Linked DNA regions of Homo sapiens. The protein of the gene in region 1 purifies or fractionates together with the protein of each later gene. This does not show direct contact. Each region holds a gene or a part of one and is shown on either strand. Other genes may lie near its edges.

Region 1 (7,021 bases):
AATTACACATCATGACTAAGTGGAATAATTCCAACACTGCAAGACTGGTTCATTTTGCAAAAATCAATTAATATAGTATACCATATATTAATAGAATAAAGGACCAAATATGCACGATTATTTCAATAGATATAAAACAGGCATTTGACAAAATTTAATACCCTTTCATAATTAAAAAAAAAAAAAACTCAACAAACTAGAAATAGAAAGGAATTTCCTCAACCTGACAAAGGACAACTATTCCAAACCCATGGCTAACATCATATTTAATGGTGAAAGACTGAAAGCTCTCCCTCTAAGGTCAGGAACAAGAGAAGGATGTCTGCTCTCATCAGTCTATTCAACATTGTACTGAAGGTTCTAGCCAGGGTAATTAAGCAAGAAAAGGAAATAAAAGACATTCAGAATTGAAAAGAAAGCACTAAAACTACCTCTATTTGCAGATGGCATTATCTTGTATATAGAGAACCCTAAGGAATCCACAAAAAGCTATTAACATTAGTAAACAAGTTCAGCAAGGTTGCAGAATACAAGATCAATATACAAAAATCAATTACAGTTCTATACACTGGCAATGAACAATCCAAAAATGAAATTAAGAAAAACAGCATTAAAAAAACTTAGAAGCAAATTTAACAAATAGTTACCACTTATACCCTAAAAATTATTTTTAAATCATTGAAAAACAATTAAAGAAGACCTAAGTAAGTTGAAAGACATCTGTGTTCACGGAGTGGAAGATTAAATAATGTTAAGACAGCAATATTCCCCAAGTTGATCTAAAAATTCAATTCAATTCTTATCAAAATCCCAGCTGGATTTTTTTGGAGAAATTGCCAAGCTGATTCTAAAATTCAAATGAAAATGCTAGGTATTCAAAATGGCCAAAACAATCTTGAAAAGAACAAAGTTGGAGCACTTACACTTCTCGATTTGAAACTTAAAAACTATAATAATCCAGAGTTTTCAAGTACAAGTAATCAAATATGGTGTGGTACTGGTACAAAGATAGACAACTAGATCAATGCGAGATGTATACGCATTGATCTGAAAGTACAGAAATATATGTTATGGTCAATTTTCAACAAGTATAACAAGAAAATTCAATGGGAAAAACAGTCTTTAACAAACGGTACTGGAACAAATGTATATCTACATGCAAACGAATAAATTTGGACCCCTATCTCATACCATATATAAAAATTAACTCAAAAATAAATCAAAGGCTTAAATATAAAAGCTAAAACAATAAAACTTGAGGCTGAGGTGGGAGGATCACTTGAGCCCAGGAGTTCAAAACTAGCCTGGGCAACATAATGAGACCGCAGCTCAAAAAAAGGAAAAGAAAAGAAAAAAGAAAGTGAAAAGATAAACAATAAGTGAAAATATTTGGAAATCCCATATCTGATAAGAGCCAAGTATTAGAATACATAAAGAATTCTCACAACTCAACAATAAAAGCCCAATAACTCATTTAAAAAATAGACAAAGGATTTGAAAACATATTTCTCAAAAGAAGGTATACAAATGGCCAATAAGCACATGAAAAGATGCTCAACATCATTAGTCATTAGAGAAACCTAAATCAAAACCAAAATGGGATACCATGTCACACTACAAGCCCACAATTTTAAAAAGACACAAAATGACAAGTATTGGCAAAAATATGAAGAAAATGGAACCTTATACAGTGCTGGTATGAATGCAAAGTGGTGTAAAACAGATTGGAAAAGTTTGGTAGTTTATTAAAAAGTTAAACATAAAGCTACCATATGACCTAGCAACTTTACTCCTAGGTATATACCCAAAAGAACTGAAAACACTGACCGGGTGCAGTGGCTCACACCTGTAATCCCAGCACCTCGGGAGGCCAAGGCGGGGAGATCACGAGGTCAGGAGATCGAGACCATCCTAACACAGTGAAACTCTGTCTCTACTGAAAATACAAAACTTAGCTGGGCATGGTGGCACGCGCCTGTAGTCCCAGCTACTCGGGAGGCTGAGGCAGGAGAATCGCTTGAACCCAGGAGGTGGAGGTTGCAGTGGAGGTTGCAGTGAGCCGAGATCACCCCACTGCACTCCAGCCTAGGCGACAGAGCGAGACTCTGTTTCAAAAAAAAAAAAAGAACTGAAAACGTATGTCCACACAAAAACTTGTACACAAATATATAGAGTAGCATTATTCATAATTATGCATAAAGTAGAACTATCCCAAATGTCCATCAACTAATGAAAGAATAAACAAAATGTAGTATAGCCATACAACGAAATGTTATTCAGCAATAAAAAGGAATGAAGTTCTCATATATGCAATAGTATGGATGAACACTGAAAACATTATACTAAGTAAAGGAAGCCAGACACAAAGGCCATATATTATCAGATTCCATTTATATGGAATGTCCAGAATAGGTAAATCCATAGAGACAGAAGATAAATCAGTGGTTGCCAAGGACTTGAGGAAAGAGAAAGTAGAGAGTGAGTACTAATAGGTAGGAAGTCTCTTTCTGGGGGTGGTAAAAAGTGTTTTGGAATTATACAGTGGTGATGACTACACAACCTTGTGAGTATATCAAAAACCATGGAATTGTACACTTTTAAAGGGTGAATTTTATGGTATCTGAGTTATATTTCAATAAAAAATTTTAATTTATTTGTTTTTTGATACAGGGTCTCACTCTGTTGCCTAGACTGGAGTGCAGTGGCACGATCACAGCTCACTACAGGCTTAATCTCCTGGGCTCAAGCAATCCTCCCACCTCAGCCCCCAGAGTAACTGAGACTACAGGCCCGTACCACCATGCTTAGCTAATTTTCCTTTTTTTATTTTTTTTAAGACAGAGTCTCACTTTGTCACCCAGGGTGGAGTGCAGTGGCGCGATCTTGGTTCACTGCAACCTCCACCTCCCAGGTTCAAGCAATTCTCAGTCTCAGCCTCCCAAGTAGCTGAGACTACAGGTATGCGCTACCACACCTGGCTAATTTTTGTATTTTCTATAGAGACGGGTTTTCGCCATGTTGGTTAGGCTGGTCTCAAACTCCGCTTGCCTCGGCCTCCCAAAGTGCTAGGATTACAGGAGTAAGCCACCGTGCCCGGCCATATTTTTAAAAATTTTTTTGTAAAGATGAGATCTCACTATATTGCTTATGCTGGTCTCAAACTCCTGGGCTCAAGCAATCTTCCCACCTTAGTCTCCCAAAGTGCTGGGATTACATGCGTGAACCACCGTGCCCTGTTTCAACAAAAATGTTTGAGTAGAACTGAAAAATTGAAGACTTCAAAGAAAGAATGATAAAAGTTACAACACAGTAACATGTACTGGCTCAATGAATCCACTTTTTCTGGTCAGTCTCCACAGTTACCATACTTACCTATATGGCTGTAAGATTTTTAATTTTTGACATTCTACTATAACTAATTTAGAGCATGTTGTACACCTTATGACAGTATCAAGGTACCAATGTTGGCTCATTAAAGTTTTGCAGGGCACAAACTAATTGCTTTAGTAATGTACTGAGAATCTCCACAAGGAACTAACAATATTTTCTTAAGTTGTGTTTTAATGGACTAGACTATGGAAAACTGAATATGTAAAATTTAAAGACTGCTTAGATTTAAAATTGGTAAATAATAATAATGATGACATCATTTCACTGATATGTCCCTAGAAATCTGTATTTTGCCGTAATATTCAGGTCAAGAAAGAACTACCAAAATAGAAATGAATAAAAAAATAGAGAGGGAAGGAAAGGGCTAAAGTCCAAAGAAAATTAAACACATCTTGGCTAAACAGCTGTGTTGAAAAACAATTTCTTATCTTGCAATTAAGAACCGATTTCTTTCTGAAAGACACAGGACATTGGGTTAATAGATTTCTTTAAAAGAAAATCTGTTTTGGCTATTGAAACATTAAAAGAACAGAACATCTGTTTTGCAAGTAAAGACAGATTGTGCAAAAGAATCAAATATCAAACCACCAATTAGACTAGCATTTAATCTGTTCTATTTAAATTTTCAATAAAAGTGAAGTTCAATTCTTAAAATTACAGTTCGGCTATAAATATTTAACCCCAGGAACCCCTAACACTGAAATAATCTTAGAGTATAAATGAGGTAATTATTAGCATATTTTATTATCTTTAATTCTATTTGATATCTATATCAAAACCAGGTTTTAAAGCACTATATACTCTAAAAATCATTTTAAAAGTATTATAAAAGGGAAAACTCACCATCCATGAATTCTGTACATATTGAAATCCTGTTTTCTACAAAAAATGCTCCATAAAATCCAATGATATATGATGAATCGCACTGTAACAAAAATAAGACAAAAGTAGTTATAAACCTGCAAGTCAATACCATAGGCATGCTTTACAAATAAAAATTATGAAAAAATTACCTTATAAAGAATTTCCAATTCAGACATAATTTGCTTCTGAAGTTCCAGTGTAATATCTAGTAGTATGACCTAAATATAGAAAGGTATTAATATTTTTTAATCTTCTAATTATATTAGTTATAATCACTATGAAATATAAGAACTAAAAACATGGTAGTTCCTTTATTCTTCCCCACCTCCTTCTTCTTACCACTATAATTCCCAGTAATACAAGCTGTATCTGCATCTGTCTAACCTTTTGTCCTTCTATACTGGGGGAGGTGGTACAGAAGTGATTGATGGGACCAAAGAAAAAAGCCAGGTCTCAAAGGTCAATAGTAATGGCTTTAAAAGTCAGTTAAGTTATAACACTCTTAATTTATGCACTCTATTTTAGCCACATTGGCTATTTTCAAAAGAGGAGCATAGGAATGACCCTCAAACCAATATAAAAGAATTATGTTGGCTACGTGCAGTGGCACACACCTGTAATCCCAGCACTCTGGAAGGGAGGCTGAGGTGGAAGGGTACCTGAAGGCCAGGGGTATATGGCCAGTCTAAGCACCATAGCGAGAACCCATCTCTACAAAAAAAAAAAAAAATTACCTGTGTGTAGTATGATCGGGTGGTCCCAATCTACTTGGGAGGCTGAGGTGGGAGGATCACTTGAGCTCAGGAATTTGAGGCTGAAGTGAGCCATGACTGCACCTCTGCACTCCCACCTGGGTGAAAGAGAGAAATCCTGTCTCTTAAAAAAAAGAACTATCTTGTGGTTTGTGATCAGACACTAGGCAATAAGCAGAGAGGATGATGAATAAAAATGACATTTTATTTATTTATTTAGAGACACAGTCTCATGCTGTCACCCAGGCTGGAGTGCAGTGGGGCGATCTTGGTTCACTGCAATCTCTGCCTCCCAGACTTAAACAAACCTCCCACCTCAGCCACCCAAGTAGCTGGGACCACAGGTGTGCCACCATACCCAGCTAATTTTTTGCATTTTTGGTAGAGATGGGGGTTTCACTATGTTGCTCAGGCTGGTCTCGAACTCCTGAGCTCAAGCAATCTGCCCACCTCAGCCTCCCAAAGCACTGGGATTACAGGCATGAGCCATCACAACTGGCCAAAAAATAACTTTTTTCTTTTCTTGAGACAGAGTCTTGCTCTGTTACCCAGGCTGGAGTGCAGTGGCATGATCTCGGCTTACTGCAACCTCTGTCTCCTGGGTTCAAGCAACCTCTGTCTCATGGGCTCAAGCGATTCTCGTGTCTCAGCCTCCTGAGTAGCTGGGATTACAGGTGTCTGCCACCACACCTGGCTAATTTTTGTATTTTTAGTAGAGATGGGGTTTCACCATGTTGGCCAGGCTGGTCTTGAACTCCTGACCTCAATGATCCGCTCACCTCAGCCTCCCAAAGTTCTGGGATTACAAGCGTAAGCCACCATGCCCAGCCAAAAATAACATTTTAAGTGGGGTTTTTAGTTATGAGAGAAATAAGGAATTTTAAAAATATATCATCTTTTTTTTTTCCAGTCAGGTAATGTTCTTTGCTAATCCTGTTACAGAAAGTTAAAGCTTGAAGAAATCTTATTTCATTAACTCCCTTCTTTTGAGTGAGGAGGAAACCACGTTTCCCTCCTGGGAGCCACAGAGCCTGGGAATGGTAGGACCCCCTCCTCTGGACTCAGTCTCATGGGCTTTTCAGTACTTTATGGTTTATTTAAAATATCAATCACTGAGTGATATTACCCACAGTGATTTATAACCCATAAATATAAAATATTTATAAACTTATCTAGAATAAATTCTAGTTTATTTCAAACACATATTTTTTTAAGAAAGAAGACCATACTGTTCAAATTCTACTAAGCATGTCAGTGAAACTAATTCAAGAGTAATTGTTTTATTTATTTATTTATTTATTTAGAGATGGAGTCCTGCCCTGTCACCCAGGCTGGAGTGTAGTGGCGCGATCTTGGCTCACTGCAACCTCCGCCTCCCGGGTTCAAGCCATTCTCCTGCCTCAGCCTCCCAAGTAGCTGGGATTACAGGCACCTGCCACCACACCCGGTTGATTTTTCTATTTTTAGCGCAGACAGGGTTTCACCATGTTGGCCAGGCTGGTCTCGAATTCCTGACCTCAGGTGATCCACCTGCCTCAGCCTCCCAAAGTGCTGGGATTACAGGCGTGAGCCACCGTGCCCAGCTTGTTTTTTACTTTTAAAAGGCAGTGATGAGAATAGAATAGGTGGAAAACAATTTTTATGATTTGTGGCAGAGTTTCTGGCTCTAGACATTTCTAGATAAAAACTTAACATTCAGAATTACTATGATAGTGTAGTTATGTAGCATTCAACTTTGAATTACATTTTGTATTACAACTGAAGAATATATATACAATCATACTGAAGAAAAAAGCATAAGTTATGCATTATAAACTGCTAATAGAGCAAGGAAAGAAAAGGACAATTCTAAAGTACATTTTATAGTCCTGACATTGGCCAGGCGTTGATTTGGGGAAGCGGAAGGTGGGGAAAAAAAAGGCATAGGTGGTTTCTATCAAGAGTTTGCAGCTGGGCGCGGTGGCTCACGCCTGTAATCCCAGCACTTTGGGAGGAGGCTGAGGCGGGCAGATCAC
Region 2 (7,440 bases), on another chromosome or scaffold:
ACTTCTCTAATTTTGTTCTTTTATAAATGGGTTTTTGCCATCACAGTTTATATAGTTTTTAAAAATGTTTTTTGCTCAATTTCCCAACACTTCAAAATACACAGCACTACCATATTAACAATACATTATCCAAGGTTAATAAATAGTCAAATTTTATTTTTATTATTTTTTTAGTGAGATGGGGTTTCACTCTGTTGCCCAGGTTGGTCTTGAACTCCTGGGCTTGAGCAATCCTCCCACCTCAGCCTCCTGAGTAACTGGGATTATAAACATGTACCACTGCACGTGGCTCATGGTTAAATTTTAAGAGAAAAAGTCTACTCACTGGTCACCGGGTGAAAAATTTAAAAAAAAAAAAATTTCTTAATTCAATGTTAAAAAGGGCTGATAATTTTTTAGAAAAGTAATTTCTTTGTACATGTTTACTAAGTATTTCTGAGCCTCATCTCTACTAAAAATTTAAAAAATTTGCCAGGCATGGTGGTGTATGCCTGTAGTCCCAGCTACTTGGGAGGCTGAGGTAGGAAGTTAGCTTGAGCTGGGAGATGACGTTGCAGTGAGCCATGATTGTCCCACTGCACTCCAGCCTGGGCAACAGAGCAAGATACTGTCTTGAAAAGAAAAAAAAAAGCAAGCAAGCAAGTTGGACTAATTGTATTACTAATCCAAAAGAAAACAAGCATACACAGAGTACAAAAACAACTTAGTTGTCAAATTAGTTTACAACTGACAACTTACCTTTATTTTACAAGCATGTGTGGAGGACTCCAATTTTAGATTTTTTTTATACAAAATGATCTTTTCATGTTCACTAAAAATAAAAAAGAATTAATTTTTTTTACTTACATATATTGTCACTTTTAATAGTTACACTTAAAAATAAATGTTTCCAGAACAATATTGAAATCCTAAGATTCAGTTTTCCTGGTGAGGCATGAAGAGTTGGGCTCCATAACTGAAGCACACTGCCTATGATTACATCTACCACTTACTAGGCTCAATGAGAAAATTACATTATATAACATATGTACAACCATGTAGCCAGACTGTATTTTAAAGCTCAATAAACACAGCAATTGTTTCCAACATGCAGGATATAAAACAGTTCATATTTTGTGTTAAAGACAGATTGGAGAAAAATCTTCGTAAGAAAAAAAATCACAAGTTGCGTTACAGGTTAATAAATAGGTTTATGTAGCACAGTCTTAGATCCCTCCACCATTTCTAATAGGCTTCCAAGAAGAAAATGTATTCAAAGTTCCAGACTGACTACCAAATTAACTTTCGGAAGACAGACTGCTGTGAGTTTAAGGAAAGAGACACACTTCTCAAAATTTCATTCTAATAAAACTCTTCCACTAACTAGCTATGACCTCCTACCAATTCACCTTGATTGTTAGTTCTAAATTTCAACATTTATAAAAATAACTAGGCTGATCTACACTGTCTTTTAAGATCTCTAAAGTTGTAAACTTCTATGCCTACTGGCACATTTTTATCTTCTCTCCCATAACATATGGTATCAATATCAGAGAATCAATAATTATTGCAAAAAGTGAGAAAAATCAAAACACTACTTCAGAAGAACACTTTCCCGTGTACAAGTCACACACCTGTCATCCAGGACAGTACAAACATTCTTGCCCCTACTGGTTCCACAGTACTCCTCTCCTAAGTACACTTCCATATTTCTTGCTGAACTTAAAATGCCAATAGAAGCGATTTCTTCACCTCCATCAGGGCCACACCTCAGGTAAAGGAAGCAGGGGTTTTCATCTTTGTTGTTGTGGTTTCTCTTCAAAATCACCAGATCCTGACTGAGAAGAAAATTGGTGAAAACATCACACAGTATAGTTCTCTGAACATGACTCTTCTTTTTTGAGACGGAGTCTGGCTCTGTCGCCCAGGCTGGAATGCAGTGGCTCCATCTCGGCTCACTGCACGCTCCGCCTTCCGGGTTCACGCCATTCTCCTGCCTCAGCCTCCCAAGCAGCTGGGACTACAGGCACCCGCCACCGCGCCCGGCTAATTTTTTGTATTTTTCGTAGAGACGGGGTTTCGCCGTGTTAGCCAGGATGGTCTTGATCTCCTGACGTCGTGATCCGCCCGCCTCGGCCTCCCAAAGTGCTGGGATTACAGGTGTGAGCCACCGTGCCCGGCCGGGGCTTCTTTCTTCTAACTCACTTCCACTTGCCCTTGAGGTCCAAGCACCTTCCCAAGCATCCAAGAAGCGCTCAACACAGAATTCATACGGAAATGAAGGTGTCACACATCAGGGCTTTCCCAAACTCTATTTTTTCCTCAATCAACATTCTACTCAATCCCCTGCAATTGACTCTCGGATAATTACATAAATCACTGGGCACCTACTGGGTGCAGGGCACAATGAAAGACAAAAGTGTATCTTTTTCGAAATTAAGTCGACAGCGATCATCTATAGCTGGACTTTTTACACAGCCTGTTTTGGTGGACAGGAGGTGTCTTGTTTGAGGGTAGAGGGGCGGACTGACTTTGACAGCAGCCCTGAGGGGCTATCACGCCTGATGGGGACGTTATATGAAATTCCGAGTCCGGGTCACCTTCCCCCTCTCACGCCCAGGAGCCTCGGCCCCTTCCCGGCCGGACCCACCCCCCTCCGCCCACCCCGGACGACCTCGCAGCTCCCCTCCCCAACTAGAGACCTGGTACCAACTGCTCTCCCGGATCCCGGGCTCAGACCCTCTCGCCTCCCCTCACAGCTCCCCTAGAAGCGCGGCAGTTGCCGAGCATAGCGACCCCGTCCCCGTCGGCCCGGCGCACCCTGGAGCAGGCGGTGCCAGCAGCTCCTCCCAGTCGAAGTCACCGGGGCCGAGACCGGCCCGGGTGAGGAGGAGGCTGTGGGTCAGGGCCCCGCCTGCAACATCCCAAGAAGAGGCCAGCGTGGGGCGGCGGGTGAGGCCCCCGTCCTCGGTCCGCGTCTCCATTCCGCCGCCTTCAGTCAGGCCAGCCCAGCCCCGGAACCTCTCTTCCAGTGCTTGAATTTCCGCCGGTACAGCGTGGAAATGGGCAGGCAAAGCGACTTCCGGCTCACTCCGCTTCAAGTACCCGCCGCTTCTTGCTTTGGTGGGGAGAGCAGGCACCAGAGACACGCATGCGCATGTGCCAGCTGGCCTCAGGCGCGGCGTTCAAAGTGTGCGGGGAGGAGGTCGAGAGCGGAGCATGCGCACTGGCAGACCCTTGCTCTTTCGCTGGAGACTATGCGCAGGCGCGGTGCACTGCGCGCCGGCACGAGGGTGTTTTCGACGTTGGCTGTGGGGAAACAGCAAGCGGCGTGGACGACCGTTGCTGAGCTGGTGTGGAACGTCTGTGATCAGGTAGGTGTAGTCTCGTCGCTCTACGCTGCGTGCAAGACCGACTCCTGACCTCGTTCTTTCCCAAGGGGACGCCAGGGCCTTTTCTGCTTCCATTCCGTCGGATCTGCAGCATTTGTGGCAGCTAGCGCGGCGGACGCGCTGCCGATTCGGGTTATTTTTACTTCGAATTCTCCTAGCCTCCCTCACACATATTCTCGCTTTAGAGGGGGGCTGAAGCGGATGATGGGGTTTTGGGGTTGAAGGGCATCTGTGATGGGCATTGAGCCACGCTGGCCTTCGCCGGGTGCTGTCTCAGCTGACGCCCCCTGACCCCATGTGCAACCCTCAGGCCGCAGGAACCCGGGCATCCAGGGCTGGACGCTCTAGGTGACAGAAATTTGAAATGCAAGAAAGACCCAGACACCGAAGGCAGGGGCTGCCCCATGAGATCGCTCCTCATGGCACTGGAAACAGCGAGTGGAAAGGGGGGGTCTCAGAACTCTGTTGAAGTAGAATATGAACTCAGTCTTGAAGGAACTTAAGGCTACGGATGCAGAACAGTGGGAGCAGATGGAACTTTCTAGATGCCCCACGGGATGGGACTGTATATAGTGTGCCCCCTCATCCTCCTCCTGTAGAGGCTTGTGCAGATTATTTTTCTGTCTTTTGAAAAAAGCAAACTCTGAAATTCCACTTGTCTATAATCTAGAGTTCCAAAGTTGTGTTTAAGGTGGTATCCTCTCTAGGAAATAACGTTTTTGCTCACCCATACTCTAATTTTCTTTCAGAGCTGTCTATTCTGGGTTCATGACTCAGTGCGCATTACTTTAATCTTTTTGCTTATGTTTTCGTTTGAGTTTATGTACTAGGACTTGTGCCCTCTAGCTAAAAATGAGAATAAACTTTGCATTCTGTTTACCTGTGTCAAAGCAAGAAAAATGATGACCAAATGTATTTTTCTATAAGTAATCACCAGAATGTACGTATGGTAGGTGAATTCACCAAGATTGAAAGAGAGAAATGTCACCAAAGGTCTATCATAGCAGAATTGTAAAGTCCTCGTTTGCAAAGATTTTTTTAATATTTCAGACTCATTCTAAGTTGTCCTTGTCATTATTTTTGTCCTGTATGTCCTGCTTCCTGTGGTTGTAAGTTAACTTTGATCCACATTAATACATGTGGACAATCCGAAGGAAAATAGGCTCTTCAGAAACTAATCTGCAATTTCATGAGCAATAGCAATATTATAAACTGGATTTTGACTTCCTTAAATAAAGCTGAATGTCCAGGAATCAGAAAACAAAAGATTCCTATGGTCTATCCTTTCCTTTATTTCCATACAGCCAATAAACCACCAAGTCTTCATTTTCTTAAAGAAAAATTTTCCTATCTCTGCTTCTTCTGTTTCCAAGCACTAGCTTTATCTGAACAATTCCAGGAGTTTGTCAGTAGCTTTCATTTTGATTCCTTCCATTTCAGTCTTTGCACTGCCCTCTTCTCCTTCTGGTGATCAATGTTCCTGACTGAATCAACACCTTCACTCCTTAGCATAGCATGCAGAGTCCTTTGTACTTTGAACCCTGCCTACCTTCCAGTTTCCTCTACCTAGAATGCCATTTTTTTCAATAGTAGGAAAAATCCTATTTATCATGCGAAACCAAGCTTACTTCATCCTGCTACAGAATTAAACAAATTCCTCTGTGCTACAATTACCACTTTTTTAGGTAGTATAATTCTCCTTTGATGTCAGACTTTGCCTGTTTATATATCTGTGTTCCCTACTATCTGCATGCTTGCTGAGATAGACATTATGTTGAGTACAGGTTTGTTGTATGGAATTGATAGGTTGGTGACAGCTTTTATCACATAAACTAAGAGCAGCAGAAAAAGGAAAATTAGTACATTCAATCTTAAGCTTTTTTCCAAAGCCAGGATGGTTATGGTTCAAAGCTGACTTCAATCTTAATATGATACATTATTCTTGTCATGAATTACAAGTGAGTTTTTTGCTTTACTTTTCTCTTTGAAGTAAATCAGAAAATATAGTTGGTGATATGGTTGGCTGTGTCCCCACCCAAATGTCATCTTGAATTGTGGCTCCCATAATTCCCACTTGTTGTGGGAGGGACCCCGTGGGAGATAACTGAATGGTGGGGGCAGTTTCCCCCATACTGTTCTCGTGGTAGTGAATAAGTCTTGGGAGATCTGATGGTTTTATAAGGGGAAGCGCCTTTCGCTTCGCTCTCATTCTCTCTTTCCTCTGCCTTGCTCTTCTGCCATGATTGTGAGGCCTCCCCAACCAACCACATGGAACTGTGAGTCCATTAAACCTTGTCTTTATAAATTACCCAGTATCAGGTATGTCTTTATCAGCAGCGTGAAGATGGCTAATACAGTTGGAAATTTCCCACCAGTAATGATATGCAAGAACTCAATATTTAGGAGCATATTTCAAATCTGTTTTCAGAATATGAGCCAACGCACATTTGAAAGGTACATTTTAGAAAAAAGTAACTTAGGATACTAATTTTCTTGAGCACATTCATTTAGTAATGCCACAGTTTAGATGTTTTGACTATCTTAAGTAGATTGAGTTCTTACTATATATGCCCTGCCTTTTACACAGGAGTATACTTCCCAGCAAGGTGGTTATAGGAACTTAACTTCCTTCTCAGGACCACTTGAGTTGTACCTTCTCTCCTCCTTTCCCTCTCTTCTGGTCCTTGCAGGTCCCACAGTTGCCAGGAATTCCTTCTCACCCTGCCTCAATACAGGGCCTGCAATTTTAACAGAGTGGAAAAGAACAACCTTCCTATCTTTTTCTCCCAACTTCATTTATAGCTGCTTTCTACCTCATTTTAACTAGAACCTCTGTTCTAGTTAGAAACATTGTTAGACTGTATATCATTTTCAATACAACCTTTCTGAGGAAATGTAGAAATGCTGCAGAAGCTCTCGAACTAGAGCTGAATCTGTGCCCGCATCCATGATTATCACCTGTATGACGCTTTCTTATCCTAAAACTCTTATGCAATAGTCGATGGCCATACCACCCTGAACATGCCCAATCTTGTCTAAAACTGTTATGCAATAAAGGGTTAACTCAGGAAGTCTGGGAGGTTCAAACCCTGCAGCTTCCAAAGAAGTTGGCTCTTGACCAGCTCTGGGAAGATGACCGCTAACCTATTGGAATGTCCTGCCTGATAAGAGTGTCTTTGTATACCTAGCTAGCTTATATCAACAGTGTGATTTATATAGTAAGGCCACACTTGAGACACACTCTGTCAGTTTGATCTCTGGAGCTCAATTTTAAATAATTATTTAAAATTAAATAAATAATACTCTATACCTATCTAGATACAAAGAAAGGTTTTTCAGGGTGAGGTAGGTGGGAATCACATAACCATATCTTGCTGCTAACTGTGGGCTTTATAACAGAGTTCCTTAACACTTCGGTTTCAGAACCCTTTTACACCTTTATAGCTTTCTAATTAAAAAATCAACAACATTGTTCTTGAGTCTGTAGTAACGTACACTAATAGGAATGAGTACTTAAAGAATGGATTGAAAAGATAACCACTGGGTCCCTCCCACAACAAGTGGGAATTATGGGAGCTACAATTCAAGATGACATTTGGGTGGGGACATAGCCAAACCATATCACCAACTATATTTTATGGTTTATTTAAAAGGGAAAAAGGAAAAATCCACTCCAGCTTCAGGACACCTGGCTTAAAATAAACTTTCTTAATGGACCCATTTCGTAAAAATGGTTTTATCCTGTTTCCTTGGGAACTTGGCAATAACTTAGAGGGTTTTAGAGTCTTAAAGGAAGGTCTGGGTGAATAAACTCTTTTTTTATGTTAACAAAGGAAAATAGCATCCAAGCTAAATCAGCTGTAGGATTTGTTATGTTTCGTTATGCATTCATGGCACTTGCACCTTCAGAAGAAGTAACTCATCAAAAATTCTGCATAATATGCTGTCAACTCATTTGTAATATTGCACGTTTCCTACAGAAATAATCCATCTTTGTGCAGAATGATAGAATTTTGAGGTAAGTTTATTAACATCCCTTCAGGAATATGTTGTACTGTTGGGTTGCAGG

Evidence for each region.
Region 2: the proteins of MAP2K5 (region 1) and C10orf88 purify together in Homo sapiens (affinity purification with mass spectrometry; 2 studies listed by BioGRID and IntAct, with this or other methods). This does not show direct contact.

What each region holds. Positions count from the first base shown.
Region 1 is NC_000015.10:67,643,682-67,650,702, reverse strand, and holds part of MAP2K5 (dual specificity mitogen-activated protein kinase kinase 5), read right to left. Parts: intron 4,473-7,021; coding exon 4,404-4,472; intron 4,316-4,403; coding exon 4,234-4,315; intron 1-4,233. UniProt on the Homo sapiens protein: Acts as a scaffold for the formation of a ternary MAP3K2/MAP3K3-MAP3K5-MAPK7 signaling complex.
Region 2 is NC_000010.11:122,951,216-122,958,655, forward strand, and holds the start of C10orf88 (ATPase PAAT), read right to left. Parts: upstream 3,013-7,440; 5' UTR 2,964-3,012; coding exon 2,800-2,963; intron 1,818-2,799; coding exon 1,614-1,817; intron 812-1,613; coding exon 739-811; intron 1-738. UniProt on the Homo sapiens protein: ATPase that regulates mitochondrial ABC transporters ABCB7, ABCB8/MITOSUR and ABCB10. Regulates mitochondrial ferric concentration and heme biosynthesis and plays a role in the maintenance of mitochondrial homeostasis and cell survival.